Linked DNA regions of Homo sapiens. The protein of the gene in region 3 purifies or fractionates together with the protein of the main gene of each other region. This does not show direct contact. Each region holds a gene or a part of one and is shown on either strand. Other genes may lie near its edges. The genes, in order: IL32, OGFR and PRKCE.

What was found.
Region 1: the proteins of PRKCE (region 3) and IL32 purify together in Homo sapiens (affinity purification with western blotting; 2 studies listed by BioGRID). This does not show direct contact.
Region 2: the proteins of PRKCE (region 3) and OGFR purify together in Homo sapiens (affinity purification with mass spectrometry; 2 studies listed by BioGRID and IntAct, with this or other methods). This does not show direct contact.

What each region holds. Positions count from the first base shown.
Region 1 is NC_000016.10:3,059,401-3,070,483, reverse strand, and holds IL32 (interleukin-32), read right to left. Parts: upstream 4,845-11,083; 5' UTR 4,797-4,844; exon of another isoform or gene 4,701-4,796; 5' UTR 4,673-4,700; coding exon 4,658-4,672; intron 3,108-4,657; coding exon 3,069-3,107; coding exon of another isoform or gene 2,931-3,068; coding exon 2,871-2,930; intron 2,501-2,870; coding exon 2,474-2,500; intron 2,305-2,473; coding exon 2,245-2,304; intron 1,495-2,244; coding exon 1,129-1,494; 3' UTR 954-1,128; downstream 1-953.
Region 2 is NC_000020.11:62,799,195-62,809,612, reverse strand, and holds the start of OGFR (opioid growth factor receptor), read right to left. Parts: upstream 4,779-10,418; 5' UTR 4,754-4,778; coding exon 4,583-4,753; intron 4,146-4,582; exon of another isoform or gene 4,026-4,145; intron 2,077-4,025; coding exon 2,008-2,076; intron 1,367-2,007; coding exon 1,288-1,366; intron 29-1,287; coding exon 1-28. Other genes in the region: MRGBP (MRG/MORF4L-binding protein), read right to left, coding at 9,970-10,157. UniProt on the Homo sapiens protein: Receptor for opioid growth factor (OGF), also known as Met-enkephalin. Seems to be involved in growth regulation.
Region 3 is NC_000002.12:46,003,558-46,013,749, reverse strand, and holds part of PRKCE (protein kinase C epsilon type), read right to left. Parts: intron 9,838-10,192; exon of another isoform or gene 9,335-9,837; intron 9,209-9,334; coding exon 9,112-9,208; intron 6,289-9,111; coding exon 6,089-6,288; intron 3,435-6,088; coding exon of another isoform or gene 3,417-3,434; exon of another isoform or gene 3,407-3,416; coding exon 3,233-3,406; intron 3,067-3,232; coding exon of another isoform or gene 3,013-3,066; exon of another isoform or gene 1-3,012.

The DNA.
Region 1 (11,083 bases), on a different chromosome or scaffold from region 3:
CCCACAATGTGTCTTGGAAGTAACTAACTTGCTTTTGAATTTACAGGCTTATAGGCAGAAGAGACTTGCCTTGTCTCAGGTGAGACTTTGGATTGGCCTTTTGGGTTGATGTTGGAATGAGTTTAGACTTTGGGGGACTGTTGGGAAGGCATGATTGAGTTTTGAAATGTGAGAAGGACATGAGGTTTGGGAGGGTCCAGGGGCAGAATGAGATGATTTTCTCTGTGTCCTTACCCCAATCATCTCAAACTGTAATCCCCACATGTCGAGGGAGGGGCCGGGCTGGAGATGATTGCATCATGGGGGCGGTTTCCCCCATGCGCTTCTGGTGTAAGTGAGTGAGTTCTCACAAGATCTGGTGGGTTAAAAGTGTTTGGCAGCCGGGTGTGGTGGCTCATGCCTGTAATCCCAGCACTTTGGGAGGCCGAGGTGGGCGGATCACCTGAGGTCAGGAGTTCAAGACCAGCCTGGCCAACATGGTGAAGCCGCATCTGTACTAAAAATACAAAATTAGCCTGGTATGGTGGCGCATGCCTGTAACCCCAGCTACTCAGCAGGCTGAGGCAGGAGAATCACTTGAACCAGAGAGACAGAGGTTGCAGTGAGCCGAGATCACCCCATTGCACTCCAGCCTGGGCGACAAGAGCGAAACTCCATCTCAAATAAAAAAAACACACAAACACGCGGACAAAAGTGTTTGGTAGTTCCCCCCACCCTGCTTCTCCTGCTGCCATGTAGGACGTGCCTTGCTTCTCTTCCGCCTTCCCCCATGATTGTAAGCTTCCTCAGGCTTCCCCAGCCATGTGGAACTGTGAGTCAGTTAAACTTCTTTTCTTTATACATCACCCAGTCTCAGGCATTCTTTATAGCTGTGTGAAAACGGACTAATACGGCAACAGATCAGCCTTGCCCTGGGAAACCCACCTCCGCGATCATGGTATCTCCCCTGCCAGGGAAGTATAAGCAGGTTTTATTAAGATGCCAGGGCGACAGCACCAGGTCAGAGCTGCGGCAGGAACGCCAGGCAGGGGGACTGAGTGTGCGGGAGAGGGCGGGGCACAGGACAGCTGAGGGAGGGGTCAGGGTGGGTGCGCGGTGACGGGGAGGGCAAAGGTGGTGTCAGTATCTTCATTTTGAGGATTGGGGTTCAGAGCACTTCTGGGGTGTCAGCTCCTCCTTGTCCCCCCGTGGGGCTCCGTAGGACTGGAAAGAGGACATGAAGAGCTCTGACAGAGAGCAGCAGAAACTCTGGAACTGTTTCCAGAGGGCCTGCACTGCATGGACCAGGGCCACCACCTTCTCCTTCACCCAGGCCAGAACCCCGTGCCACCAGGTCTGCAGCCGCTGCAGCATGGCCTGGAACCATCTCATGACCTTGTCACAAAAGCTCTCCCCAGGCTCCTCGGTTGCGGGATCCTCAACATCCGGGACAGGGGATCTGTTGCCTCGGCACCGTAATCCATCTCTTTCTTTTTCAAGTAGAGGAGTGAGCTCCTGTGGAATGGGAGCACCATTCAGGGTCTGTAGGTGGGGGTGTCAGCCCCAGGCCCTGGCCACACCCAGGCCTCTCAGCCTTTTCCTGACCCTGGGAGACGGAGGCCCACAGGTGTTGGTTTCCCAACCACAGCCCCGTGGGCAAGAGGGACTTTTCCCAGAGTCCCCCTCCTCTGCATTCACCTCCATGGCAGTGACAGGATGGGTGTGTCTGCTTGGTCACCAGGTCAGGGCCCTCATCGTGCCTTGAGGGCTGTGCCACTGTGTGAGGAGTGAGGCCATGGGCAGGTCCCAGCTAGGCTGTCACTCCCAGCCCTCCACCCCAAGCTCAGGGGCTGGGCACACCCTGCCCACACCACATCAAGACAGGGCAGGGGTTGGCTGGGCCCGGTGGCTCATGCCTGTAATCTCAGCACTTTGGGAGGCCAAGGCAGACGGAACACAAGGTTAGGAGTTCAAGACCAGCCTGGCAAACATGGTGAAACCTGGTCTCTACTAAAAACACACACAAAAAAAATCAGCCTGGAGTGGTGGCGGGTGCCTGTAGTCCCAACTACTTGTCAGGCTGAGGCAGGAGAATCACTTAAACCCGAGATTTGGAGGTTGCAGTGAGCCAAGATCATGCCACTGCACTCCAGCCTGGGCGACAGAGCGAGACTCTGTCTCAAATAAACAAAAAGAAAGAAAGAAAGAAAAGACAGGGCAGAGGTGAAGGAAGGCAAGGTGCCCAGATGGGTGTGTCATACTCACTGGGTGCTGCTCCTCATAATAAGCCGCCACTGTCTCCAGGTAGCCCTCTTTGAAGTCGTCCTGGGGAGAGGAGGGCACAGGGGGTTCATGCTGCTCCTGCCTGCCCCCTTCCCACTGTGGCCCCCACTGGTCCAGGTGATTCCCAAGGGGACCCGGGGCCCAGACCCAGTGTCCTGTGGAGCCTAAGACCCAGGGACTAAGCTTGGTGGAGGGGGAGGCCACGGCTCACCTCCAGCTCTGCCAGGCTCGACATCACCTGTTAGGAACAAAGCACTCGGTTCCAGGCCCAAGCCTCCTCTGCACCCCACATCAGTCAGTCCTCAAGCCCAGTGAGTCCTCAGCTCCCACACACCCCGAACTGGGCCCAGCCAGGGGCCCGGGCCACGTCTGGCACCCCTGTTGTTTCCTCAAGGAGCCCTGGGGCTTGGATGCCTCCCTCAGTCTCCCCGGGCGTCCAGATCCCCCACCCGCCCACTCACTGCCACCCAGGTGCAAGCATTTGCCCACGGTAAGGGGTGAGGGAGCCTGTGGGTCCCTCTTCATCCTTCTCACCCTGAGCCCCACACAGGGTGGAGTGCCTGGGGGCGGGGACATGTGACCTGGTGCCTGAGGGGAAATCCACCCACCTGTCCACGTCCTGATTCTGCATTTTGCATTTTATCATAAAATCTTTCTATGGCCTGGTGCTGTGAAGAGAGGCAGAGTTGGCACCAAAGGGCCGGATCCTTGTCCCTCCAGGGTCCCAGGTGTCCCACAGTGTCCTCAGTGTCACACGCTGAGACCCAGGCCCCCAACCCCTGAGCAGAAGTAGGGAGGAGCATTACCATTCGGGCCTTCAGCTTCTTCATGTCATCAGAGAGGACCTGCGGAAATAACGGTGACACTCAGTCTCCATGTGTCACCTTAACCTTTCCTCCAGGATAATTTATACACACACACACACACACACACACACACACACACACACAGAGACACATGGCAGAGGTACAGGATAAGAGGAGACAGCAGTCCCAGGAGCCCCTCACAGCCTGGAAAGACCGGCCAGGGCTGTCCTCGAAACGACTCAGAAAGCGCTTCTCTCAGGAGCCGGCTCAGCTGGGCAGGCCCAAGAGCAGGGCCAGCATGGGCCTAGGTGACCCCTCCTCACAAGAGCAGGGCCTGCGTGGGCCTAGGTGACCCCTCCTCACAAGAGCAGGGCCTGCGTGGGCCTAGGTGACCCCTCCTCACAAGAGCAGGGCCTGCGTGGGCCTAGGTGACCCCTCCTCACAAGAGCAGGGCCTGCGTGGGCCTAGGTGACCCCTCCTCACAAGAGCAGGGCCTGCGTGGGCCGGGGTGTCCTCCCTGCACACACACACCCCCCCATGTACACACACGGGAGGATGGACACTGTCCTGGAGCAGGCTGGCTCAGCTGGGTTTCCCACAACCACTATGGTCCCAGGTGAGAGTTGGCCAAGGAAAAAATGTTTAGGGACATGACAATTGAGAAGGTAACAGCAGCCATTCCTCTCTGATGAGCTGATTAATATTTGGGGTGCCAGGTAGGTCCACCCTACAACCTGCCACTCTTCCCGACTGCCAACATGCAGACCCACAGGTCCCGGGCCATTCCTGCCTGCAGACACGTGGCTGCATCCACAGAGGCCAGAGGCACCCCACAGAATCCCCGCTGAGCCCCCACGTCAAGGGCCTAGTCTCGGGGGTGACATGCCTGGTTTCCCCCACTATAGAGTGGTGACAGTCACCCACAGAGTGCGCAGGGCCTGGGGACATATTCTGGGCAGGGCAGCTGTCTGCACACTTTCAGGCAGCGATGGTCCCATCCCGCTAGCCTGATTTCCCAGGAACCAGGGTGAAAGCAGCACCGTGCCGACATGCGGGAGCCATGTGTCCTCCGGGTCACTGTCCTGAACCTGAGCCAGGCCACATCATGGAAACCCCTATTGTCACAGGCCGAAGAGCTCCCTGGAGGGTGTGGTGGGCCTAGCATTTGCGGTGGGGCAGTGGTAGAGGATGGGAGGTCGGAGGGAACCCAGGAAAGGAGGAAGAGACACCAGGACCCACACAGGCCTTGCTCTTGGGCCCACCCAGCTGAGCCGGCCTCTGAGAGAAGCATTCTCCGAGTCGTTTCCAGCAGAGCCCTGCCCCACCCCTGCCCCGGGCTTTCCGGGCTGTGAAGGGCTCCTGGGACAGGTGCTCCCTCTCATCCACACCCCTGCCGTTCTCCAGCGCCCCCGACACATATGACCTCCAGCGCCTCCACTGACACTCTCACCCCATCACTATCCTCCTGCCGCTGGGTGCCCCTGACTGAGCCCTGACACACAGGCACCTCGGGAAATACTGAGGGCACCCGCACCCTTACGGTCTGTTTTCAGACATGCCCACAAAAGCACACGCAGCCTCTCACTCACCTTCGGGAAGCACATGGCGGCCAAAAGTTCAAGGAGCCAAGGCCTGCTGGCGAGGAACAGGTGTGAGGAAAAGAAAGTGTCTCAGAGAAGCACCCTCCTCCCCAGAGGGTCCTCACCTTCGGGGACCCCAACTCCCCACCTGAGATGACCCAGCTCCACTGAGACAGTCACCTTCTGCACGCAGTCTTCCTGGCACAAATACTCAGCTGGTTTTATGGGGAAAGTGGGGGGTAGTGGGCGGAGCCTCTCTCAGGGCAGGAGGCCTTGCTGAGTGCGTGAAAAACAGACAGAGACAGAGACAGAGACAGAGACAGACAGAGATGGAGACTTACCCGAGAGAGACAGAGGTCTGGGGTCCCTGGGAGGAATGAGGGTCCGTCCCTGGCTGGGCCCCTGCTCCCTCTGAGCTGGGGTGGGAGTCTCTGAGCCCAGGAATGGGCTGCTTTCCCCACCCCACCAGCCTGAGAGTGGGGAGGGGCAGAGGGAAAGTCCAGACTCGGGACAGCTGGCTGGGGAAACTCCCTGAGTACAGGAAGGTGACGTCAGCCAAGTGGGATCCAAGGACAAAGGAATTTGGACCCTGTCCTTGCATGAGGTGTGCCCCGGCTCCAGAGGCCAGAGAAACTTCTGGATCAGAAGGAGGCAGGAACTGCCGGACCTAAGAGGGGCGCCGTGAGGGCAGGGGCCTGTGCACGTTGGAGGGGTGGCTAGTGGTGATGTAGATCTACCTGTGGGACAAGATAGGACCCTCTGCAGGGTGGAAGGCATCCTGCCGGCTGTCTGAGCTTGGCTGACCAGGTCCTTCTGACCCTTCTGGGCCAAGGCAAGGCCATCTGGGGCCGAAGGTCACTGGTCTCAGCAATCTTGGGGCTCCCCTACGGGCTCTTCTAGCTCCACGGGTTCTGACCCTCCAGCCTGGCTGGGCCTCCCACCTCCTCCTCACGGCCCCCAGCCCCCTTCCCCCAGCTGAGCACAACCACGCCCTTGCCTTTGGGATGGTTTCCTGGGGCCAAACTAAGGAAGTACCACGACAAGGGGCCCTAAGTCGAAGACGTCTCTTCCCTCACGATCTGCAGGCTGGAGGTCCAAGGTCAATGTGGGCAGCGTGGGGTCCTTCTGAGGGCCCGGAGCTGGGATTCTGTTCAGGTTTCTCCTGCCCTTGTAGATGGCCATCTTCATCTTCATCACGTTCTGCCTGGGTGTGACTGTCCCCCTTTCCCCTTTCCAAAGGACACCAGTCATATTGAAATAGGGTCCACCCTAGGCCGGGCGCAGTGGGTCACGCCTGTAATCCCAACACTTTGGGAGGCCGAGGCGGGCAGATCACCTAAGGTCAGGAGTTCTAGACCAGCCTGGCCAACATGGTGAAACCTTGTCTCTACTAAAAATACAAAAATTAGCCTTGCGTGGTGGCCGGCACCTGTATTCCCAGCTACTCGGGAGGCTGAGGCAGGAGAATCACTTGAACCCGGGAGGCGAATGTTGCAGTGAGCTGAGATGGTGCCACTGCACTCCAGTCTGGGGGACAACAATGAAAATTCCCCTCGGAAAAAAAAAAAAAAGAAGTAGGATCCACCCCAGTGACCTCATTGTACCTTAAGTACCTCCATAAAGACCCTGTTTCCAAATAAGGGCATATTCTGAGGTCCTGGGGCTTAGGAATTCAGCATGGATGCAATGTATCCCATTATATTCTCAAAGGGGACTCGGAGAGACAGAACCTATAAAACACGCTCCATGGAGAAATCTTCCCTTGGGTGAAGTAGACAACGGTTGTCACCTGCCTGCCACTTAGGAGTCCATTCCACTGTGCGCAACCGCCTTTCCACATACAGGATGTCCAGATCTTTCCCTGAGTATCCTCTGAATTGTAGTGGGAGACAGAAGGAAGCCACTCCTGCACCAGCTAAAAGTCATGCTTTAGGCTTCAGCTCCAACCCTAGCCCCTCATGACTCTCAAAGGCCACCATCTGAAGACATCTTGGGATCCACCCAGACTGTATGTACCCTGTTTTTATAGCTTTATGGTGATGCAATTTACAGGCAATGCAATTCACTCATTGAGCTGTACAATTCAAAGCACAGAACTGTGCAGCTATCACCACAACCCATTTTAGAACATTTTTATCACCTCTAAGAGAAATTCTGCCCTTCTGAGACATCACTGCCAGTCCTCATTTCCCTGGATAACCACTCATCTACTTTTTCTTTTTCTTTTTTTTTCTTAGAGTCTCGCTCTGTTGTCTAGGCTGAAGGGCAGTGGCACGATCTCGGCTCACTGCAACCTCTGCCTCCTGGGTTCAAGCAATTCTCCTGACTCAGCCTCCCGAGTAGCTGGGATTACAGGCACGTGCCACCACACCCAGCTAATTTTTGTATTTTTAGTAGAGACGGGGTTTCACCATGTTGATGAAGGAGTCTCGAACTCCTGACCTCAAGTGATCTGCCCGCCTTGGCCTCCCAAAGTGCTGGGATTACAGGCATGAGCCACTGTGTCTGGCCTCATCTACTTTCTCTCTCAATGGATGCCTCTCTCCCAGACATTTCCTATAAGTAGAATTATACACTAGGTGATCTTCTGTGTCTAGCTTCTTTCACTGAACATGCTATTCTTGAGGTTCATCCGTGTTGTAACACGCATTATTCCTTCATTCCTTTTTCTGGCTGAATAATATTCTACTGTGTGGATAGACCACATTTGGTTTCTCCATTCACCCCTCGAAGGACATTTGGGTTCTTTCCACTTTTTGGCTAATTCCGAATAATGCTGCTATGAACATTCACGTACAAGTTTCTGTGCAGACGTATGTTTTCACTTCATATGTATGAAGCAGAAGAATAGCTGGGTTACATGGTAAATGTGTTTTTATCCTTTTGAGGAACAGCCAGACTATTTTTCAAAATGTCTGTCATTTTACATTCCCAGCAGCAGTGTGCGAGGGTTCCCGTGTCTCTACAACCTCAGCAATACTTGTTATTCTCTGTGTCTTTTCAATTCCAGCCATCCCAATGGGCTGAAATGGTATCACGTGACAATTTTTTTTTTTTTTTTTTTTGAGGTGGAGTCTTGTTCTGCCACTCAGCCTGGCCTAATTTCTGTATTTTTAGGAGAGATGGGATTTCACCATGTTGGCCAAGGAGTCTCGAACTCCTGACCTCAAGTGATCTGCCCGCCTTGGCCTCCCAAAATGCTGAGATTACTGGCATGAGCCACTGCGTCTGGGCTTATCTACTTTCTCTCTCAATGGATGCATCTCTCCCAGAGATTTCTTATAAGTAGAATTATACACTACGTGATCTTCTGTGTCTAGCTTCTTTCACGGAACATGCTGTTCTTGAGGTTCATCTGTGTTGTAACACGGATCAGTCCTTCATTCCTTCTTCTGGCTGAATGATATTCTACTGTGTGGATAGACCACATTTGGTTTCTCCATTCACCCCTCAAAGGAAGTTGGGGTTCTTTCCCCTTTTTTGCTATTCTGAATAACGCTGCTGTGAACATTCACGCAAAAGTTTCTGTGCAGACTTATGTTTTCACTTCTCTTGGATACGTATGAAGGAGAAGAATAGCTGGGTTACATGGCAAATGTGTTTTTATCCTTCTGAGGAACAGCCAGACTATGTTTCAAATTGTCTGTCATTTTACATTCCCAGCAGCAGTGCCCGGGGGTTCCTGTTTCTCCACATCCCCAGATACATTTGTTATGCTCTGTGTCTTTTTAATTCTAGCCATCTTAGTGCGCTGAAATGGTACCATGTGACAATTTTTGTGTTTCTTTTTTTTTTTTATTTGATGCAATCTCGCTTGGTCTCCCAGGCTGGTGTGCAGAGGCACGATCTCGGCTCACTGCAACCTCCAACTTCTGGGTTCAAGCGATTTTCCTGCCTCAGCCTCTCAAGTAGCTGGGATTACAGGCATGCGCCACCACGCCTGGCTAATTTTTGTATTTTTAGTAGAGACAGGGTTTCACCATGTTGGCCAGTTGGTCTAAAACTCTCAAACTCAAGTGACATCTGCCTCTCAAACGTCTGCATCAGCCTCCCGAAATGCGGGATTACAGGCATAAGCAACCGTGCCCAGCCAATTTTATTTTTATTTTTATTTTTTTGAGACACACCTGTTGCCCAGGGTGGAGTGCAGTGGCGTGATCATGGCTCATTGTTGCCAAGACTTCCCGGCTTCAGGTGATTCTCTCCTCTTCGCCTTCCAAGTAGCTGGGAATACAGACACGGGTTGCCACCATGCCCGGCTAATTTTTTGATTATTTTGTAGAGACAAGGTCTCACTATGTTGCCCAGGCTGGTCTTGAAACCCTGCGATCAAGCCATCCTCCCACTTTGGCCTCCCAAACTATTCGGATTATAGGCGTGAGCCACTGTGCCCAGCCTCTTTCCAACTTTCTGGATGATGTCCTTTGAAGCACAAAAGTTTTACATTTTGATTATGAGACCATGCCATTTTTAAACGATACCACTTAAAAAATAAAAATAATCACTTTGACATGACATTTTTGTGTAGCAGTCATAAAATTTTAAAGGCTCTGGAAGTCTACATGGAGCCATGAGGCAGTCTCAATTCCACAGTGGCCGTCCGTCCTCCGGGTGCCCCATAACCAACTTTTCGATTCCTCTCTACTTCGTCCTCCCACTCTTCTTTCTTCTTATTATTATTATTTTTATTTTTATTTTTGAGACGGAGTCTCGCTCTTTTGGCCAGGCTGGAGTGCAATCGTGAGATCTTGGCTCACTGCAACCTCCCTCTCCCGGGTTCAAGTGATTATCCTGTCCCAGCCTCCTTAGCAGCTGGGATAACAGACATGCACCACCATGCCTGGCTAATTTTTTTTCTATTTTTAGTGGAGATGGGATTTCAGTGTTGGCCAGGCTGGTCTCAAATTCCTGACCTCAAATGATCCGTCTGCCTGGGCCTCGCAAAATGCTGGGATTAAGGCATGAGCCACCACGCCCGGGCCCACTCTTCCTTCTTAGATTCCCCATCAACCATGGATTCCTTCTGCGAAGCAGGGAGATTCAGGTCAGTCCAGTTCCTGCCACCACACTTCTCCCCAGGTCCATCAATGCTCAGAAGAATGGAAGGGCTTTTTGTACATTCGTTTTTATTGTCCTGAGTGGGATGAATAAGTTTCTAATATACAAATTTCCCCCTCCTCATACATGGAAAAGAAACTGACAGAGGCCCAAATCGTTTCCTGGCAGCCCAGAATTCCCAGGTAACTGACCAAAGTCTCCTGCCTTCTGTCCTCATGCTGATCTGTTTGTATGAGCAACTGGGGCAACCCCTCGCATGGTTGCTGGGACAGCCGCCCACAGCCTCAGCTCCAGGAAGCACTAGGGGGTCACTGAGGCTGGACAGCAACTTAGGAAGTGGCCCCTAAGTGACTCTACCCATGGGGTTCAGGCCATCGGTGTGGCCTGAACATATTGGTCCTGGGGTGGAGGAACACTGCAGAGCCACAGAAATGCCACGAAACAGCCAGCTACTGCCCCCCACAATCCCCGCGACTAGTTAAAATGCAGATTCCTGACCCCACCCTGAGTGAGGATTCAGGGTGAGTGTGGGATCTGCAAACTTAAATTTCCCAGTGATTCTGATGTGGGATAGTCTAGAAGAATAGTTCCAGAGGCAATCATTTAGATCCTAAAACTGTGGGGAGTGGGGACAGGGTGAACGAGGTGCCCCCAGGTTCCACCCACCCCTCACTCTAGAGCTAAGGCCTCCCAGGAGGGAGTGCTGAGGAGGCAATGACCAGGCCTGAGCCAGGGTTCGGTCCCTGTCTTTCCACCAGCGTTGAGTTGATGGGAGTCAAGCTGTTCTCTCCAGGGTGCAAGCAGGGAAGGGGTTCTTGGGGATAGAAGGGTTCCCCATTGAATGGAAGGCAGTTCTGGGCCCAGGGAGGTGCCCAAGTTGGGTGGCCTGGGGAGGAGGAGGTGGGTGGCGGGGGAGCAACGGAAAAGGTTAACAGCCTGGAGAGCAAGGGTCGTCCCTCCAGCCACTGATTCCACCACCCAGGACGTGGCGCATGGGTCCTCAGGGGTGATATCTGGGCTGGTTCCGGGTCTGGGTCCCAGGTCCCCACCAGTGTGGCAGTGACTGTAGGGGGGCCTTGTGGGAGCAGAACGGGGTGAGAAACTGCGGGTGGGAGAGGGGCAAGGCACAGCTTCGCAGTCAGGCCTGTCCTCTAACGACCCAGGAATGCCAGACGCAGTGGCCAGGCGGGGCGGGGCTGCGGAGAGTCCCAGGACTGCGCTCCGAGAAAAGCTGGCTCTTCCTGGAAAAGGAAGGTCCTGCGGGGCCAGCGCGCGACCGGGGCTGCCGTCCCTCCGGGTGAGGCCGCGGGCCCGCCCCTTGTCCTCCCCGCCCCTCCCCGGGCTCGGGAGGCGGGGTCCGACCGCCCCCTGGCGGCA
Region 2 (10,418 bases), on a different chromosome or scaffold from region 3:
TTCTGAAGAATGTCCTCAATGAAACAGCCTGGGAGCCCCATGGGGACAAGTCAGCTGTGGCAGCCACCCTGCCCGTGCTCAGGAGGACGGGGTGTGGGTGGGGGACATAAGGAGAGAGTGCTGCCAGCAGCTTCCCCAAGCTATTCCTCGCCCTCATCTCCTGAGGCTCTTCAGGGTGCTAGGCTCAGTGGGGCTGCCCATCCCTCCTCCGATGCACAGCCCTTGCCCTGCTGCCATCTGTGACCTGGACCCTTGTTGCTGGCTGGCGGCAAACCCCACTGAGAGCCCGGAAGGTCCCTCTGGGGGAACCACTGGTCCTCGACCAGGACCTGTCTGTACAGGAGGGGGCCTCAGTGCCTCCTGCAAAAGCGTGGCCCGTCAGCCACAGAAATCTGTCCTCAAACACAGCCCCCAGCTGAACCCAGTCCCATGATGTGGCAGGCACAGTCTCCTGAGATGGGGGCCTGACAGTGTTTTGTGCAGCCACCCAGTCTCTGTTTCACGTTGCAGCCCGGCACGTGCATAAACAGGTGTGGGCACGTGCCCGTGAAGCTTTATTGACACTGAAATTTTAATTTCTTATAATATCAAAGTAATAGAACACTGTTCTTTTTTTTTTTTTTTTTTTTTTTTTTTTTGAGACAGAGTCTCATTCTGTTGCCCAGGCTGGAGGGCAGTGGCGAGATCTCGGCTCACTGCAACCTCCACCTCCCAAGTTCAAGCGATTCTCCTGCCTCAGCCTCCTGAGTAGCTGGGACTACAGGCGCACGCTACCACACCTGGCTAATTTTTTTTGTATTTTTAGTAGAGACAGGGTTTCACCATATTGGCCAGGCTGGTCTCGAACTCATGACTTTGTGATCCACCCGCCTTGGCCTCCCAAAGTGCTGGGATTACAAGCGTGAGCCACCAGGCCCGGCCTCTACTTTAATTTTTTGCAACCATTTAAAAATATAAAAGCTATCCTTAGCTCGTTGGTTTACATGTGGCTTTCATGAGGTCGTGCAGGAGTTCAGTAGTTTTGATAGAGACTGTGTGGCCTGAAAAGCTGCAGATATTCAGTCTCTGGCTCTTTACAGAGATAGCCCACCCCGACCCAAACACCACTGCGGAGATCCCAAGCCGGGGATCCTGGAGTCCCTCTGGCCGCCTCCAGGGGGCACTGTGGGGCTATTTGAAAGCCGTGGCCCTGGTAATCGCCGGGTACATCCCAAACCAGGGCCCAGTGGACCACCCCTGCCAGGCAAGGATGGAAGCGCCGGCTGCCAGTGGTTGTGAGGCACCTACCGTTGGGCAGGAAGCGGATCTCATTTCTGTAGAAACTCAGGTTTGGCGTGTCCCCATTGCAGTCTCGTTCCACCAGATCCTGAAGAGCCAGAGAAAGGGGACAGCAGGGATCCATCAGACACAAGCTGCCCTGGGGCCCTCCGTGTCTTTCGGGGAGGCGCATCTGCAAACCTCCAGGCTGGCCCAATACCCCAAGAGCCCGCCTGGCTCCTCACTCTGCAGGTGGGGGCCATTCAGAGGACAGCAGCTGCCTCCAAGCCCCAGGGACCCCCCTTCCCCATTTCGCCAGCCAGGCCAGGCCTGGCAGGTCCCCTCCTCAGCACCCTGAAGGCAGCACAGGGGTTTCCGTGATTCAGGGGTGTGGAGGGTAATGGCTGAGGACAACCTGCAGGAGACAGGGCTGGCATGGGGGTGGGGTGCTGTGTGGGCGGTATCACGGACCCCACACGTGTGCATCACGAGGCTGGCACTATGGCCATGTTTGCAAGGCGACGGTGTGCTGAAGCTCAGAAAAGTAGGGGGATGCCCCCGGTCTCCCGCGAGAGGGGAAGGGCAGGGCTCTGAATCTATACCAGGCTGTGCCCCAGGCAGGGTCCTGCCCAGAACTGTGGCCCTGGCACAGCAAGCCAGGCCAGCCTTCCAGTAGAACCTGGGACATTCTGCCTGAGAAGAGCAGCTGGCGGGAGGGTTCTGTGTCCCGGGGCAGGGGCAGGTACGTACCGGATAGTTGTGCCGATACCTACACATGTCCCTCGTGGCTCGCCAGTTTCTGGACCCTGTCATTCTGGACTGGGAAGAAAAGAGATGGGATTAGGACCCCCATGGGAGACCCCCAAGTGAGTCCCAACGTGGTGAGGGCTGCAGGGCCTGGGCCAGCTGCCACAGAGCTGTCTTTAAAGGGCGGGGGTTTCATGGCTCCTCCCTCTCATTCTCCTGCCCTGGCTCTTTTTTGGGGGTTCCCAGTGGGGCAGATTTGGGCCTCAGTAACGCATCCCAATACCCTGCACAGAACCAGAGAGGGCTGCGGTAGCCAGGTGGGGGGCTGCTCCTTCTCTAGGCCCCTTTGGGACTCCTGGCTTCCACCTTAGGGTGGCCCCTGGCTGACATGCACCTCCCCTGGGGTGTGGCCCTGACCCTCTCCTCCTCCTAGGCCTGCTGGCCACCTCCACCCTGGCTTTAGCCTCTGTTCTGTGCCCCTGGAGACTCCCCCTGCTTTGTACACTAAAGTCACCAGGCTGTGTTCTTGGGGGCAGTGGCCTCACCACCTGTAGCCCCAGAAGGGGACCCAGGTGCTTCTGGCAGGGTCTAATGAATGAATGCCCCTTCCCTGCCCAACCCCACGCCTCACTGGCCACGGTGAGGGCAGGCCCTGAGTCTCCAGCCTCCAGCCCTGTCTAGTGATGGCTTCTCAGCAAGATGTCAGGTCCCCTTGATGCCCCAAGCCCTTCAGCCCCCATCTCTGCAGGCCAAGCATCATGGGGCTGAGCAAAGGGCCGGAAGTACCTAGTGATGAGGATGGTGGGACACAGCCCTGACCTTGTGATGAGGGTGGGGGGCCTGGGGCTGAGCCTCACTCGGTGGGTAGGGCAGGAATGGGCGTATTTGTCCAGGGCAACAATTGGGACCCAGGATCCTGGGGGAGTGCTAGAAGGGGGGTTAGGAGGCCCGGTCAGCCACTGTATCCCCTGGCTCCCCGCTGAGCTCCAGCTGGGACCTGGCGTTGCCTCTCTGCCTGATTTTTCTTTCTTATTTTTTTCCCCTCGAGATGGAGCTTCATGCAATCTCCACCTCCCAGGCAATCTCCACTCACTGCAACCTCCACCTCCCAGGCAATCTCCACTCACTGCAACCTCCACCTCCCAGGTTTAAGCGATTCTCCTGCTTCAATCTCTGGAGGAACTGGGATTACAGGTGCCCATCACGCCTGGCTAATGTTGTATTTTTAGTAGAGACAACAGTTTCACCATGTTGGCCAGGCTAATCTTGGACTCCTGACCTCTGGTGATCCGACTGCCCAGGCCTCCGAAAGTGCTGGGATTACAGGCCTGAGCCACCGCCACCGACCTCTCGGCCTGATTTCTCAACAGGGCCGCTGGTGTGGTTCTCTCGCCCCGCCTGATCATCAGTTTCTACTTCTCCTTCCTGGGGCCAGCGGGAGCCTCCCTGGGTCAGTTCTGGAGGCTGGGTCCTGACTGGATGTGGCCACACAGTCAGCCCACAGGTGCATACATGACACTGCCCAGGAAAAAGTGAAACAGCCCCGCCAGGGTCCAGCGCAGGCAGCTGGGGAGGCCTGAGGGGTCCAAAGGGGAAGGGGAGGGGCTTGTGGACAGAAGCCACAGCAGGAGGCAGAGGGAAGAGGTCAGGGGTCACGGGCGCCTGGCAGGATGGTCAGGGCCTCTGAGCACCGCTTCAGGAGAGCGGCCTGAGGAACTCCAGTGAGGAAAGCCCGTCAAGAGCCCACCCAGGGGTCACACCGTCCTGTGGGACAGAGCCAGACCCCACCCCCCTGCCCAGCCTGCCTGGCCGCTGCCCTCCCGGCGACAGGGCGGAGCCCCTCCGTGCTCTCTCACTGCCCGCTCCACCATGGCCAGGCGCAAACGCAAACAGTGCTGGGTGCCAAGGGGAGAATCCATGCGGAGCCGTCGAGTTCCATGCACTTCCCGGCCCTCCGCAACCCGGGCAGCTCAGCTGGAAGGCCGCTCCCAGATCAATCCCAGCTCCCCGACAGGGGGGCCGGACTGCGACAGTGTGGCGTTCCCAGCGCGGCAACAAAAGTAACCCCGGCGATGACAGGCGCCCGGCGGTAACAAAAGTAACAAGCGGAGGCCCCGTCGGCCCGCCCCGGGCTCCCGCAGGTGCAGACGCGAAGCCTCCCAGGCCAGACCCGGCCCGGGCCCCAGCCCCAGCCCCAGCCCCAGCCCCAGCCCCAGGCCGCGGGGCCTGCGCAGGGGCCGCCAGGAGGCCGAGGCGCGGGCCCGAGGCGGGAGGGGTTCCATCAGGGGCGGCCACGGCGGCTGGGGGCGGGACGCGCCCGAGGCACCCCCGGGGGGAACGGCGCCCACACACGATGGGGCCCGGGAGGCTCAGCTCCGCTGTCACCCACGCGCGGCCCCCGCACTTCCCCGCCGGGCCCTGGGGCTGGGGGTCGGCCGGTCTGGGGGGGGGTCCCCGGGGCTGCGGGAGCTCCAGGAGGCTCCAGGTGTCTCCGCCCGGGATGGGGGGGTCTCCCGTCCACGCAGCCGGGCGGGGGGCGCCGGGGACCCCAGGCCTCTTCCGCGCCGCGGGGCCGCACCTGGAACGAGCTGGGCCGCGCCGCCCGCGGCTCCTCCGACTCCTCGTCCTCGTCCCCTGCGTCCGCGTCCCTCGCGCCGGCGGCCTCGCCGTCCTCGCAGTCCTCGTCCTCCGCGTCCTCCGCATCCTCCTCGTCCTCCTCCCAGGTGGAGTCGCAGTCGGGGTCGTCCATGCTCGGCGGCGGCGGGGCTCGCGCTGGAGGCGGAAGCGAAACCGAAAGCAGAGGAAGCGCGGGGGGCGGGCGGGGGGAGGGGACGGAGCGGCCCAGGCCCCGCCCGCGTCCGCGCGCAACGCCCCTCCCTCCCCGGGACGCCCGCCCCGCGCCCCTCCCTCCCCCGAGAATCCCCCAACGTCCGCCCGGGAGGATGCCCCTCGCGGAACGCCCACCCCCACCCCACGATGCCCACCCGGGAGGATTCGCCCCACCCCGTCTCGCAAGGATGCCCGCCCTAGGAGATCCTCCCTCCCGAAAATGTCCCCAAAGCCTGCCCGCCCCCCAGAGGACGGTCTCCCCGGAAGATGAGCCGGGTACCTAGGAAGGATGTCTTCCCGACGATGTCCTCCCAGCAGGATTCTCTCCCCGGAGGATGCCTGCCCCGCAGAGAATCCCCTCTTCCAGGAATATTTCTGTCCCCCAAGAGAAATCCCCCCAGAGGATGTCCCCATCAGAAGAATGTCCCTTGGAGGATAACCCCCGGAGGGGCCACGTGTCCACAGGGGCCTCTCTCCCTAAGCTGGGTGTGTAGGGGTCTCTGTCCTTCTGCTGCGGGCTGGGGGCCTTACTCAGCTCCTGGAAGCTGCTGGCGGACCCCTGTCCCTCCATAGGCAGTGCAAAGCACGGCCGTTTTCTTTTCAAAGCCACCAGGGGAGTCTTTCTCTCTAGGGTGCCGAGTCTTATATAACCAGGATGACATGGGCAAGCCGTGGCTTCCTTCACCTTTGCCGCCATCTCTCAGTTGTAAGAAGGCACTTAGGGGAGAGGACCACACGAAGCCTGGGCCACCGGGAGGGTCACCCTGGGGACTGTTCAACACAGCTGATGCCAGTTCAGCGCCTCCTCAGGGCCCTCTCTCTAAGCACTGGCAGATATGGGGCAACACAAAGTCACTTTCACCTGCCATTTCCCAGCACCGCGGGTCCCTTGCTCATCCACCTTTGACATCTGCTGGCAGATACATGGCAAGGTTGGTGACCTCTTGAAATAAAAATCAGGAGTGGCCACTCCAGATAAATTTCTTCTGTAACTGCTATACCAATTCATTTCAAAACATTTAGGTAAAACTAAATCTGGATTTTGGACTTGGCCATGAGGATAGCTCCTCGCAGAGTTGTCCCTGTAATGATGGTGGTGGAAAGGTGGAGAAGGCCCCAGCCCAGCCCCTAGGGGACACTGCCATCTCCTAGCCCTGCAGGCCTGCTGGGCCTGGGAACTGGTGACATTCCTTGTACTGTGTGCCAGGGACAGCCGTGAACGCAAGTCTTCCAATCCTGGCCACAAGTACAGGTTAAGGACCCTCTGGGTGCTGGGCCCTAATCTTTGCTGACCTGTTGACCACTGTTAGCAGGTGCAGTCTCACCTGGCTGGAACCTGTGGACATGCATCACACTTTCTTGAAACGACAGTGGTGATGCCCCGAAGTTCTGGGGCGCTGGACATTTCTGTAAATCAACTTAGTGCAGTGGCCAGGGCAGGTTTCCCAGGGAGCCTGAGTGAGCTGCCTGACCTCCTTGTTAGATGATTTACAGGTGGGATCTGGTTGCAGCATCAGAATAGACTGTGAGGTGGAGTCGGGGGGCTCTGATGGGGACATTGATGGGTGCTGGGTGGTTGTATAGGGTTTGGGTGATCTGAGACTTGGGTGGTCAGGCTGCCCCCTCCACTGCCCCAGAAAACAGAAAGACAAGCATACTGGGTGCTGACAACATTGTTCTACGGGGACAGCATTCCCGCTGCTACCTACTGTCGGCAGGACTATAGAACCACTTCCCTAAAAAGAGTATTAGAGACATTGCCCAACTTCTGTTTTACAAATATCACCACACCAAATTGCTTCTTTAGTTGCTTTTGTGTTGTGTGTGTGTGTGTGTGTGTGCAGAGCTCATCTCGGGGGCGTGCTAATCCAAGAAGTGCAGGAGCTGCTGCAGGGGACTGTGCAACAGAATTGCTTCTTCAGAGCATCCTCTGCAGTCCAGTGACGCCCCGTGTGGCACGGCATTCCAGAAGGGTTTGCTGTTGAGGCTGGGGAAAGGGGCTCTCTTTCTCTGTCACATACTCACACACACACACACACACACACACACACACACACACACACACACACAGCTCCCAGGCACCCAGGAAGGGCAATGGTCTCTGCACACGCAGTGGGTGATGTGCCTGGAGCAGGCAATGCTCACAGCTAAGGAGCCCAGCAGAATTTTGTGTGGCTGGGAGCTTGGATTACAGCCTTCATATCTTCTCCAGGCAAGACCAGTGGCAGCCTCCTGATTTGGCCCAAGCATGCCCTGTCCTCAATCAACCAGCCAAGCAGGGAGCCTCGCTGCCAGTGCCCTGCCGCTCAGTATTTATTCGCTGCTATTTGGGGAGCAGTGGAGCCCAATTGCCTTTCCCAGTCACCCCTGGGTCGCCCTGGGTGGGCAGGCGGGGGAGTTCAGATCACTCCCACTCTCAGCCTTCACTGAGTCCCCACCCGCAGCTGCCAGCCATAGAGAAAATGTCTCTGCGGCAGCAGGTGCTCTTGGGCCCTGCGTGTTCCAGGTGTAGAGCCGCTGCTGAGGCTTCCAGGCTCAACATCAGCGGCGGCTTCTGACCCGTTCAGATCTTGTCCCGAGTGCACAGTGTACCACGTCTCGCCTCTACAGCAGCAGGCGCGTGAGCGTCCGTGCACGGGCCAGCCTCATGCCAGCTGTTTTCCTTTTCAGATTGGGGTTCAGTCGGCACCTTCTACATGACATGGTGGAGTGTGCATTACATAAAGCCCCCAGGTTACAGACAGGACCCCTGGGGCCAGGAGAGGGTAAGTACAGCGCTTACCAGGACTTGAGGCCACATCGCCCTTGCCCTGACACTTGTGAATTTGACCTGGTCATCCCACCTGCCAGCAGAGCATGAACTGGGCCTCCCCACAGGGAAGCCCAGAAGCCCCTGTGAGTCCATAAGGGCTGCGTGGCTCCTGACTTCAACCAGTCAGCCTCTGGTCCAGAAGGGAGGCCCGGGGCGGGGGCACGCTGCTCACCTGCCCAGTGGGCTTAACCTGTGGGCTCTAGCTTTCTCCTGGAAGTGCAGCAAAATGTTACAGTAATCGAGATGAGGCAGATTTATTAACTAGGCTTTCCTAGCACAATCTGAGGTCACCCGAGATGCGGTTTCAGATGGAGGTTTAGGACAGTGAGCCTGGGTGGCGAGCAGGACTCCTCCTGGCCATCCCGTGACACCCCGTGTTAGTATTTGCCCCCCTTTGCCCTGCTGCTTCTGGACTGCCTAAGAGCCAGGCTGCTGTCCCGGACTGAGACTCCAGGACAGGACCTGGCACAAAGCCCTGAATGAGGCTGACCTAACAGGAGAGATCAGACGGGCAAGGGGGCACACTTGGGCAGCAAAGGGAGACCCCACCCTTCCCTGGCTGCAGGGCTGAGTATTTGTGCTGTGAGTGGAGGAATGCCAGGCGGGCTCAGTCCTTTGGTCTATGTGTGTGGGGCCCTCCAGATGCCTGCTCTTTGTGGCAGGCTGTTACTGCAGGGCTGTGGATTTGTCCCGGCTCTATAGAAAAGGGACCCACAGGGTCCCCCCAGGCAGCTGCTCTACCCTTGGAATACAGCTCAGGCAGGCCGTAGACCAGCAGCTTCCCTGGGCTGTTCTTCCCCAGAACTGGCAGTGCGTTTGGTGCAGACGAGTGGCAGGTGCCACACGGGGCGATCACATGGCACGGGATTCCTGGCTTTGCCCCTTTAGTGGGTGCCTTGTGATCTGCGTCATGGTGAGGAGGACTTCAGGGACAGATGGCCAGGGATGTTCCCAGGTGGTGGAGGAGGCTCCACTGGCAGAGAAGCAACGTCAAGCTGAAGACATTGGGGTGCGATGGCTGGCCAGGACAGCTTGTCTCCTCGTCCGCACACGGAACGCTGGATTTCACTCTGTGACCCAGCCAGCGGTCTCATCTCACAGCCGCAGCTTTCAGCAGGAAGGAGCCCACTGGTGCCTGCCTGACCTACGAGGGCCCGCACCGTTTTGCCCTCCTAACATTTTGTATTTGAAGTGCTTGTCACAGTCCACAAAATAACCACTCAGAATCTGTTACTATTTTGTTTATATGTTGTATCAAGTGAATGTTAATAAGTCATCTAAGTGTATGCTTTAGTTATAAATCTTGGAAAAATAAAAACTTCCTTTTGGAGGAAAAGTGAACTTACTTTGGTATCAAAATCACACAACTCCAGGTTGGATTTTTTTGTGCTTTAATGTTCGCAGTCACACGAAAGTGGCATCTCCATCAGCACTGGGGCGGCCGCCTCCTCATCAGCCGACAGCTGCACGGTCCCCGCCTCTCATCCATTTGGTCTGTTTGCAAGTTACTAGATCATACAAAAATAACCGCTACAAATTCTCTGTATCTGGCATATAAAAACTGAGCAAAAAGTATCTCTTAAAGCAAAACATCTCAGAAAAAATACAACACAGGTTTAACTTCTGCAGTACTTTGTTCATATAAAACACTAGTAAAATAGGCTTCTTAAAAATTAAATAGTGAAATACCAACCAAATTATATACATTGTTACAGTACAAGTGAATGAGGCAAAATATCCAGTTCTTAGTTTCCCAGGTGGGTGGGGGTGGCCTTCAGTGCGTGGCACGGAGGGGGTGACAGGAAGGCCACGTTCCAATGTCACAGTCAGCGCAGAAAGAGGCTTGCAGCGGGACAAACAGATGGAAAGAACTGAGTCACACAGGGAAGACCAGGGGCTCCTTTGAGGAAGAGTGAGGTCATGTTTTTATTGCTTGCTAATCCGAGGTTTTCCCTGGCCCGATGCCCCTCTAGGTAGCCTGGATCCCAAATGCTGCAGCCCACGTAGCGCTAATCCATGTCACCAAGCAGCCACGGGGAAGCCACAGCTGCTCCAGAGAAGACAGAACTAGGCTTCAGAGCCCTCAATATCTGAGCTGGACCGATCCTGGTCTTTCAGGTCCATCAGGGTCCCACATGGTCCAACTGACACACACGTTTCCCCGCTGACGGCCACGTTCACCTGAGAGCCTGAGGGCGGGCAGTGTGGGCTCATGGCACTGGGATGGTATCACTGTGGCCTGGGGGGTGGCACTCAGACCCAGCCAACCCCCTCAGCGACCACAGTGCCTCGCCCGCTTCTCTGCCGCCACCAGGGCTGAGGGTCTACGTGCGGCGCCGCTTGGCAGCACTGGGACTGGAAGGGTTGCTGTTTGCGGTCAGGACTTTGTCGGTGACCCGGCTGCGCTTCCGCTTGTCTGCGCCTTCTTTGCACCCCAAGTCTGAGGAGTTCTTCTCTTTGTCTTTGCTGGATTTTTCTGATGCTTTCCCCAAACTCCCTGAAGATGAAAAAACTGAGAAACGAAAAATCACTTGGCTGAAAACAGAATATCCAGAATCTTATTTTTGTCTTCCTGTTCAGTTAAAAAAATCTGCATACTGACACGTGACCCTCTGAACCCAAAGCTTCCTCCTGAGCTGGGAGCCCCTTGCATTTGGGCCCACAGAGGGGCCTGGTCCTCCTGAGGACCTGCCTGCGGCGGGCACTGCAGGGACCGCCGCTCAGACCCTGGCCTACAACATGGAGCAGGCACTCAGCTCCTGGGGAGGGGGCA
Region 3 (10,192 bases):
TAATTAAACTCGACTTAATATTATTGCTGTTCTGTATGTCATAATTAAACAAGCATGAAAGAAATCTTAATAGGATTGCAATCGGGTCTTTGTGTTCCTGAATGTTGTATCAGAGTCTTAGTGGAAACCAGGTTTAAGGTGGCTCAGAGGAACTGTCCTTTGTTTTCAGGAAAAGTGAAACTCAATCAAGACTGAATTCTGTGGCTACCAAACCCAGCTGCTATTCCCAAATCCTGTCCAAATCCTCTCTACCTTTCAAAGCCTGGCTTGATCGCACTTCTTCCACTAGATCGTAGGGAAGACCCCCTCCCCTGAGTCTTCTTGGTTTGAATACTCCCATCTAGAACATAACTATTCAATGCTGTTTGCTACTCCCTCTTAGCTTGTGGAATTTAGAATAACCTCCCAATCTATTATCAGTGAATCCTTCCACGTGAGAACTGTCTTCCTTTGGTTAATAACCCCAGCATCTACCTCAGAGTCAGGTGAATAATAGCTACTCTTTAAAACTATGATAAACTGTTGGTTTGTCATAGGGAAAGTCACATTTTTAAAAAGTTAAGTTGAAGGTTTATAAGCTGATTCTTCATCAGGTTCCTTTCATAAGTAAGTTAAGATCCTTCTATGAGGTTAAAATATGATTCAGTTTAGAAAAATTCAGTGAATATGCATCTGTTACATAAAGCTAAGTATTCTATGAAACTGAGGTGGCATGAGAGAGTTGGTGCAAAGCTGCTCCTGTGACTGTGGCTGCCTGACAGTGGCCTGAGAAAAGATAGTAAATATCTGAACTACAGAGGAAGCTCCTTCTCTGCCCATCCTCACCCTACAGCCATCCATGACAACATCCATGTTAGCTTGATCACTGTTCTGCCATAAAAGAAATCCCTGGTGTTATTCAACACCATTTTGTGCTCCAAAAGCTGCCATATGATGAGGAATCCTTAGCCTTGTTATTCTACAACGCACAAAGGAGAACACTGCTGACATTGAAGACATCCATTCCCACTCCCTCACTCATTCACCAAGCTGACCTTCAACGTGGCTTCCCATGATCCACCACGTACAGGGGCTCCATAGAGCCCTCACAACTAAACTGGACCCCTCCTAGGATGTTGGGCTTCTTGATAATGGTGTAAAGAAAACTTGCCAGAGTGGCTCCCTGCCTGGAAAGCCACCTCAGATAGTGAGAGGGAGGGCTACCTGCTGGGGACAGGGGGAAGTGGGAGGGTTCCTCCAACAGAAGGGACCCTGTGCTGGATCAGGCACAAGAAACTAGCAATGTGAATCAGAGCAAGGCCCCACTACCTTGGGAGTCCCTGAGACTAGATGAGATGCCAGGTCTGACTCTGCCAAGATGGAGTGCCTATGAGCAAAATAGTTTTACTTCTCTGAAACCCAATTTTCTCACTGGTACCAAAAGGAAAGAAAAGAAAAAAAAAAAGGAAAAGAAAAGAAAGGAAAAGAGAGAGAGATAAAGAAAGATAAGGTGACTTTGAAAAAATCTTCCAAGTCTTTGATTCTGTCCGTGGGTACCTGTCAAGTGTGAGGCCCTGTGATAGGCACCATGGAAAATACAAAATATGATACATTTCTCATGAATCTAAAATTATGCTCTAGTGGAAAAAAGAAGAAAGTTAACTCCATCACTGAGTCTCTATTATTCAGGATTCTGTACACACACAAACCCATAAATATTAGGCATTACACAACACACATGAAAAATGAGAAGAGTTAGTAATTCTTATACTTGTGCAGAAAAAGGGATAGATTCCTATTAAATAGTGGTCTCTGAGGAAAGTTTCGTAGACAAAGAAATATGTGTCCATCTTGAAAGATAAGCAGAATGATTTCCAGATTTTCAGACGATATTTCTTATTCTCCTGAGAGATCAGAAGGATAGGAAAAATTCCACTGGATCAGGGTTCCTCAGTATGGAATGGGCATTGTGTGTGTGTGGGTGCATGTGTATGTGTGTGTAAGAGAGAGATGGGGGACCCTGGGATCAAATAAGTTCGGAAAAGTAGATTAAACAAAGGTAATTTTGTTTTCATTGCAGGTCTCCTCAAGGATGCTAATAAACATACGTGTGTTGAGACTAAGAGAGGTTACGTTTGCAGTGACTCCAACTATGGGTCACAGAGTCCTTTCTTCTTACAGCTGCTCAAGTGATTGGGGTTCTGAGAAATCCTCTCTGGGAAACGGTGTACCAAAGATAATGTAAACTCCATGAGGTCAGGGACTAGTCTAGTTCACCACTGTATCTCCAGCACCTGGCATGGCATCAGATACACGGGAAGGATATAATGAAATATAATAAAAGAAAAGTTTGCCAAATGACTCAATGAATAACTATTGAATTTTAAGTGGAAAAACTGGCATTCAAAATGACATGGAGATGAGAATACACCCAGAAGCAAGGTATCACCTCTCCATGATGTCACCCTCAGGGTCTGGGTTCCACATAAGCCACAGCTAGGAGTTTCAGGTGATGTCTGTCTTTGCCTTCTCAAGAAGCAAAATACTACAAACATCCATAATGATCCTAAAAGACTTTAACTCCTCCCAACCCCTCAAAAAGGATAACAAAATTAGAGCTTCATGAAGAACATTGCTGTTTCTTTACTAAAAACAGGTAACAAATTAGTTAATAATACTCGAGTCAGACTCTACCATGGAGTTATGGATTATCTTTGTTTCTTTACTGCCACCTTCTGGTTCCCAGACACCTATGCGGTAAATTAAAAATGCTGCCTTATATTTGTGTTTCACTATGAAATTTTAAGCATTTGTTCACATCCTTTATTTCAGATGACATTACACAGATTAGAAGAGATTAAGGTGGCCTTTACTCTTTTTCATATGACATGAAAATAACTTAGAAGTTAAGTGATTTGATTAGTGATAGAAAGTTAGGAGCAGAGCAAGGACTAACCACACTTGTTGGTTTTTCCAATGAGCAAACAGTGAGTTTAGCCATTTGGCTTTGTCCAACTCTGGCTGCAAAGAATTCTACAGCTCTCTCATCCCTTCACAAGCACAACCTTGAATGGAAAATCCTGTGCCCTAAAAAAGAAGATGCTGTTCAAATACATCCTGATCTTTTCAAGGGTAAAACCCATCCCACTTTACAAAGTCTTTGAGAGAACAATGTAGAGGGTCTAAAATTGGTATTTTATCTGATAGTCAAGATGCCCCAACATGGCAGCCAGCCAGCTTCTTCCTAACATACCTTGGTCTGGAAGCAGCAGTAGAGTTGGGTAAGGTACGGGTGTTTCCGTGCCAGAGCCAAAATCCTCTTCTCTGTCATTGTGCAGTCCACGTCATCATCCTGAAGGATGACGTCCTTCTTTAAGACCTTCACAGCATATACTTCATCTTTGCCCTTGAGTTCTGCCAACATGACCTGCAATCAATCAATTGCCTCCATCAATCTATGCATGTATGGAATAAAAAGAAGAAGTGTAAGCTAATACCAAATACTTCAAAAACGAATTCTGTTTTTTCTTTAATTTTAAATATTATAACAAGCCTGGTGTGGTGGCATGCACCCAAGATACTTGGGAGGCTGAGGTAGAAGGATCATTTGAGCCCAGGAGTTACAGATCAGCATGGGCAACATAGCAAGACCCCCTCTCAAGATGTATACATAATGTTTAAGAAAACTTCCTATTCTACAATTACTACCGTTCTACAGTTACTACATTCTAATAGTTACTACAATTTATTTATTTTTGATCTCTGGCACAATGCCCAGGCATAGAAAAGAGAAGTTCAATGCACATCTGTTGAATGGTTATTCATATGTTTATATGTGTTTGTCATACTTACAATTACAGTACACCAACTATTTTTACAGTTACAGTACAGTAAAATAATGTAACTATTTTTAACTGAACATTATCTTACAGACATTCTCCATATGGTCTCCATTATTATCACGGTTGCTTATACTCAATTCAAGTAAATATAATTTATTTAACCATTTCCCTCAAATTAGGCACTTCAGTTATATCTAATCATTAAGTATTATATAAGTTGCATTGAGTATTTTTGTACACAATTAAAACAATTTCTCTTGGATTACATTTGTAAGATGGAAACCCTCATAAGTAGATTAAAGGGTGAAGCATTTTGCACATTTCCTATTTTCAGAAAGGATGTGTGATACAATGTGCCACTAGCAATGTAGAAGTGTTGGAGTTTCATGGTGACTTACCAATACTGAGTAGTTTCACTTAAAAAGTATTTTTGCTCACTTAATAGGTGTGAAATGTTACCTTGATGCTATTTTTACTTAAAATGAAACTTTAAAATTAACTGTTTTCTGACTGTATTTCTTTTCGTGTAAATTATTCACGTCTCCTTTGTCTAATTATGCTGCTATCATATTAATTTCTTACAAATTTATACACATGTGATATATAAAGATACTAACCCTTTACTTTCTGTAAAAGGTTTTCTAAGCCTGTTTTATAATTTTCTGTTATTTTATTCTATTGAAAAGAATCATGTATCTTTATGTAGTTGAATCTGTCCTTGTTTGCCTTTATGGTTTCTTTTATAACTCTGAAGCTGGAAACGTGATTCCTTTTCAAGAGAGCTAATTAACAGTTCTATGTTCTTAAAGTGTTCCTATCATTTGATATTTTTGCACTCATTTACCTACAAACGTCACAAGCCTTTCTCTTCTTAAATAAGTAACTCCTAAGTACAGTATTCCAATGTAAGTCATCAAAGCTAAAAAGCAGCCATCAGAAACTTAATGAGGGAATTCATGATGTTAACCTGAAGACTTTTTGTCGCCCGCGTATTTTACAGACTCTTTAAAACTGGCTCAAACTTTGGCTGTGATTTTTCCTAAGAGATAACCTAAATGCTCCAAAGTCATCTAAGTTCCCATTCTGCCTACACTATATGAAAACCTAGAATCTCGGAGTCTTGCTCAAAATTAGACCACATCCTGTTCAGGTCCCAGAGTTATGCCTAACCAGAGGACCTCTTTTTATTTAGTCAGTCTCTAAAGAATGTAATTGCTTCAGCTTTTGCCATTTAAGTAAACCCCAGTTACCTTCCCACCAGAGTGGTATCAGGGTGAGATAGGGGCAGGTGAGACGGCTGGGAACCAGGTGGGATGGGCCAGCTGACTGACCTACAGGCTGCTGCTTTCAAGAGTCCAGGACATGCCAGGGCATGTGATCCCAGGAGCTTCCTGGTCCCCAGAGCAGGACCTCCCAGAACTTCTCAGGGGGTCCCAGAAAGGTGACTCCCAGGCTTAGCTCTGAACAGAACCAGGGAACAATCAGAGATCTCAGGTGAAATGCAAACAGCTTCCTCTGCTCCCTGCCCCTTCATCTTCTTTCTAAATGAACAGGAGTTAATTTTTCCATCTCACCCAGCCATCGGAATGGTGGCTGATCACCTTTAGTGCTTTATTGAGCATACTAAAGGCCACACCCCACACCACTGTGTTCATCTCAGTGGGAACAGGATATGGAGAATGGCACCAAGGGCAGAGGACCCTGATCCGAGGCATGAGATGATTATTCCCATTTTCTTGCCACGTGTAAAGGATAAACAGAACATTTATTACATGCCAGAAAGATCAGTTAAATAACATTTACCTTCCAAAGTAATGCATGCTAAATTTGCTTTAAACCCTAGGTTTGCTGAGGGCAGAGATTCATTCTCAAAGTCTTCATAACAAATTAAAAACAGAATTTCAGCTGATCTCTGAAGGAGGGAAGACATGTATTGACACTACTATTGATTTGGAACACTGAGCATTTAAAACTTTCCAAAGTGCTTTCTCATCTACCATCTCACTTGATTCCTGTCCCCATTCAACAAATGAGAAAAATTGAATTCCAAAGAGATTAAATCACTACTTGAAAGTCTCATATAGCCAATTAATAGCAGAACCAGCGCTCCTATCTACTTGGCCTCAGGTCATTTGCACTTACAAAAAAGGAAAGAAAACCTAACGAGATCAGGCTGAAAGGTTCCTCTCTCAATCTTAGATCAAACAGACGAAACAATGCTAAGGAGTAGAACAAAACCAGCAGTTCCACCCGTGTGTGCCACAGACCTTGCCAAAGCTGCCTTTGCCCAACACCTTGATGAAGTTGAACTCATCCAGGCCCAGGCGCTTGGCCTGGCCTTGCCGGACTTCGCCATTCTCACCGGGGCTCATCAGCTGGCCATCAGGAGACGATGCTGCCCGGTGCTCCTCTCCTCGGTTGTCAAATGACAAGGCTTTCCGAATGTTGTTCTCAAGTTCTTTTATTTCTAGGGCCAAGGGGAACAAGAAATTGCATTAGTGCATACCTCTTAAGCCTGTTACATTAGGACTCAACACTCAGACTTTCCCCTGTAAGCTCTCAGTCCTCTTTCTGGTTCTTCACAACAGATCCAGTGTGACATCCCTTTGTATGTTCCTTCATCTGTTCACCACACTCTTATTGGCACCTAATGCGCAGCAGAGCTTAGGTATGCAAAGAGGAGGAGGACACAGTCCCTTCCCTGCCCTTGTCAACTCCAGATTACACTGGACCTGGCTGTCTCTCTGAAAGCCCCCTTTGGCTAGTAGCCTATTCCACTGTTCTAGGTAAAGCACACAAATCTGGGCCCTCTCTGGAATTCTGCAGAGTCACAGGTATCCTTCAAGTTTCCTCTGAAGATGAGAACAACGAATCAAGAACTGTCATCACAGTAATCACTGGTGATATAATTATTTCAACAACTGAGCCATCAGAACGGTGGCTGATCACTGAAGGTAGAAACCTTCATACCTTCTAAAAACCTTTACTCAGCCTTGTTGCCGGGTTTCTTCTAAATACCCATCTTACACAAGGTTATCTAACAAAATGAGCAATGGGCTTATTATTAACAAAAGAATTGCTTTCCCAAGTGACATGTTGCAAACTTATCTCCAATGGGGCGGGAATTTCTCAGTACAATTTCTCAACTACGAGACAGTCTTGTGCCCCGCTCTAGAGCTTATGACCTGAATTACCTGGGGGAGATAATGCTGGATGATCCTCTGACCTTTTCTATTTGAAGAAGCTTTACTGTTAGCAACTCATTCATCAAGACACGCACTCTTCTGTGTGGAAATGGGCATCTTGAGCAAAATCCGATTTTAAATGATGCTTGTGAATAACTTGGATTATGGAAGGGGAACATAGCCTATTAACCCTTGGGAATGAGAATTAGGCATGAGTGACAGAAAGAGATCTTCAGCTTCTTTTCAGAAGGACAGAGTCCCATAAGGGCTTACTCAAGGAATCCGGAGATCTTTCCTAGATCTGGAGTTTGGCTCCTCTGAGACGTGTTGGGGAGGGTGAAGACGGGGAAAGCTGCTGAGTCTGCAGACACTCCCCTTGCCAGTTCAGCAGTTATCCACCTATCACTTAGCTTGACTAAATAACTTTTAATCTCACAATAGAGCTAAAAGCCTCAGTTATTAAATGAATTTTGGAAGGCAAAACATAGTTGTTTGGGGACAGCAAAGCTTGAAGAAAAGGTTTTTCTATGTGTCTTTACAAGGGAAGAAAAAGAAACTATGTCTTATTTCTGTTCTGTAATAATGTCGCTCAGAGGGACATCTGTGCTAACATCACTACTGGGAAATCCTGGCGTCTGTGTCAAGTGGGATGAACAGAGGCCCTGGGGCCGCTGTATCCTGCCACTGTATCCATCCAATGGCAGAGCTCAGAGCCAGAGAGCATGCAGGGCAGGAGCCAGGCCTACAAACCCTGGTCTCTGAACTCTTACCTGGGGTCTCTTTTCTATATGACCCTGTCTCCCTGAAGCTCCCAAAGGGGATCTCAGCCTCAGAAAGGAACACGTGAAAACCCCCAAACTGGTCTGGGAAAATAGCTACAAGTTCTGCAGCCCCAGAGTACATCAGGCTACTTATGAATGCTTCAAATCTCATTTGGAATGAGGTAGAGTATAAAGACACAGAAAGTTAATTGGAGTAGCACGAAGAGGGACTGAGACCAATTATTCTGTGGCCTCAGGGCTGGTGCATGACCCCCGAAGCTCTTTTATTTACTCCTGGGTAAGAAGGTCTGGGTCATGGTGGTGACCTCCAAGGAAGGTTTGATGGCAGGGTTTCTGAGAGTGTGTCCCTCAGCCAGCATGGGTACAGTCTTGCCCTTACCACTGACTTATCTCCAAACCTTGGGACAGAACTTTTCCACACTCTGACCTCCCACTTCCCACTCACTAACCTGGGGGACAGTAATGAAGCACCAACATAGAGTGGGTATGGGCATAAAATTAGGATAATGAATACAAAAAGGGATATAGAAAAACCAAGGCACCATTGTCAGGCTGTGATGGTTATTCCTCTTCTGCAGATGCATATGTCCCTTACCAGGCATATCTGATAATGGTCACGAGAGCAGGAGGTTTTGCAAGTGTAAGTCCCTCCTCAGCCTCATCATTCTCGGATGGCTGCAGAATTATTATTGTGCAAATTATGTCTGCAGAACTTATTGTCTGAAGCACAGTCGGACAGAAGGAGATATCTGGAGCTGTAGAGGGGAAACAGGCCTAGGACTGGCCTCCTTCCCACTTCTTTTCTCAGTCTCTCCTCTAGCTTCATCTTTCTATCCTCACCCACCCAAAGGCCAGGATAGAAGACATCCTCCCTCACCCAGCCCCAAACTCAAGCTGATCTCAGGTTTTGGGTATGATGATGGGGGAGGGAGTGTCAAACTCAACTCAAGGGAGTGGTGTTGACAGGTCTAGGGCCAGGCAAGAGCTTTAAGAGAGGGAGCTGTACCCTTCTCTCTGCAGTACACTTGGAACCAGGGACAGAGGCAAGGGAAAACAGATAACCATAACATCATACACTCGCTCTCCTCTTACCCTGGCCTGGAAGGAAATTAAGGCAGATATGGCCATGGAGTGCCCAGCCCTCAAGAAGGTCTTGGAGAATGAAAGAACTGTTAAATCAACAGGCAACGGGTGTGTGAAAACCCACCAGGGCTGCTAGCTATTTCAGCTAACAAGCTCACTCTTGGTTAAAGAGGCCTCAGAGCTCCTTGGTCCATCCAATGGCAGAACTCAGAGGTCAGGAAGCAAATCTGAGGGTCTCACCCTGGTCACAAGGGGAGGTGGGTGCTGACTTGGATCGATCTTCCTCAGATGGTGAGCTTCCAGAAGCAGGCTGCGGGGACTCGGCACCAGCAATGAGCTAGAGAGGAGAGAAAGCAGGGACAGAGGCATCAGAAGGGAGGGTTGAGAGTTTTCTGATGTCAAAAGCATCAAGATGCCGTATAAGAGCCATGAGAGTTCCCAGAGCAGCAGGAATTCAGTAGATCTCTGTCCTCTTGCAGCCATCGCCAAAGTAGCCAAAATGAAGTTCGATCCCTCTGTGACGTCTGACCAGAGCAAGAACCACAAAAGGAATTTCAGTGCACCTTCCCTACATTCACAGAAGGATGATGTCTTCCCCTCATTCCAAAGAGCTGAGACAGAGGTACAATGTTTGATCCAACCCCATCCAAAAGGATGAAGTAGTTCGGGTTGTGCGAGGACACCATAAAGGTTAGCAAGCTGGAAAAGTAGTCCAGGTTTACAGGAAGAAATACATCATCTACATTGGACGGGTACAGCAGGAAAAGGCTAATGTTCAACTATCCACGTGGGTATCTACCCCAGCAAGGTGGTTATCACCAGGCTAAAGCTGGACAAAGACTGCAAAGAGATCTTTGAACGGAAAGCCACATCTCACCAAGTAGGAAAAGAGAAGGGCAAATGCAAGGAAAAAACAATTGAGAGGATTCAGGAATAAATCTTACATATAACTTTCATTAAAAACTGCTAAAATAAAAAAAAAAGAGAGTGTTCCTAATACCCAGTGTTACTTGCTGAATTGATATTCTGAAAGCACAGACTCAAGGTTTCATTTGCCAATTTAAGGGAAGAAAACAAGAGACTTCAGTTTGTTCACTTTTAATTCTATCCAAATACAATTGACCTTTCTAAGCAAAGCTCACCCCATGTCTTCCATAACGTCCCCCTCCACCTATCCAAGCAATGCAAGTTATCTCATGCAAAGCAATGTGACACTTGTCTCTAACACCTGTTTGGCACTTATTTATATCTTATTCAGCTTTTTATAGTTAGTATCTTTATGTGTATATTGTGAGGTGTTCTCCACTTAAGTAGACTATAG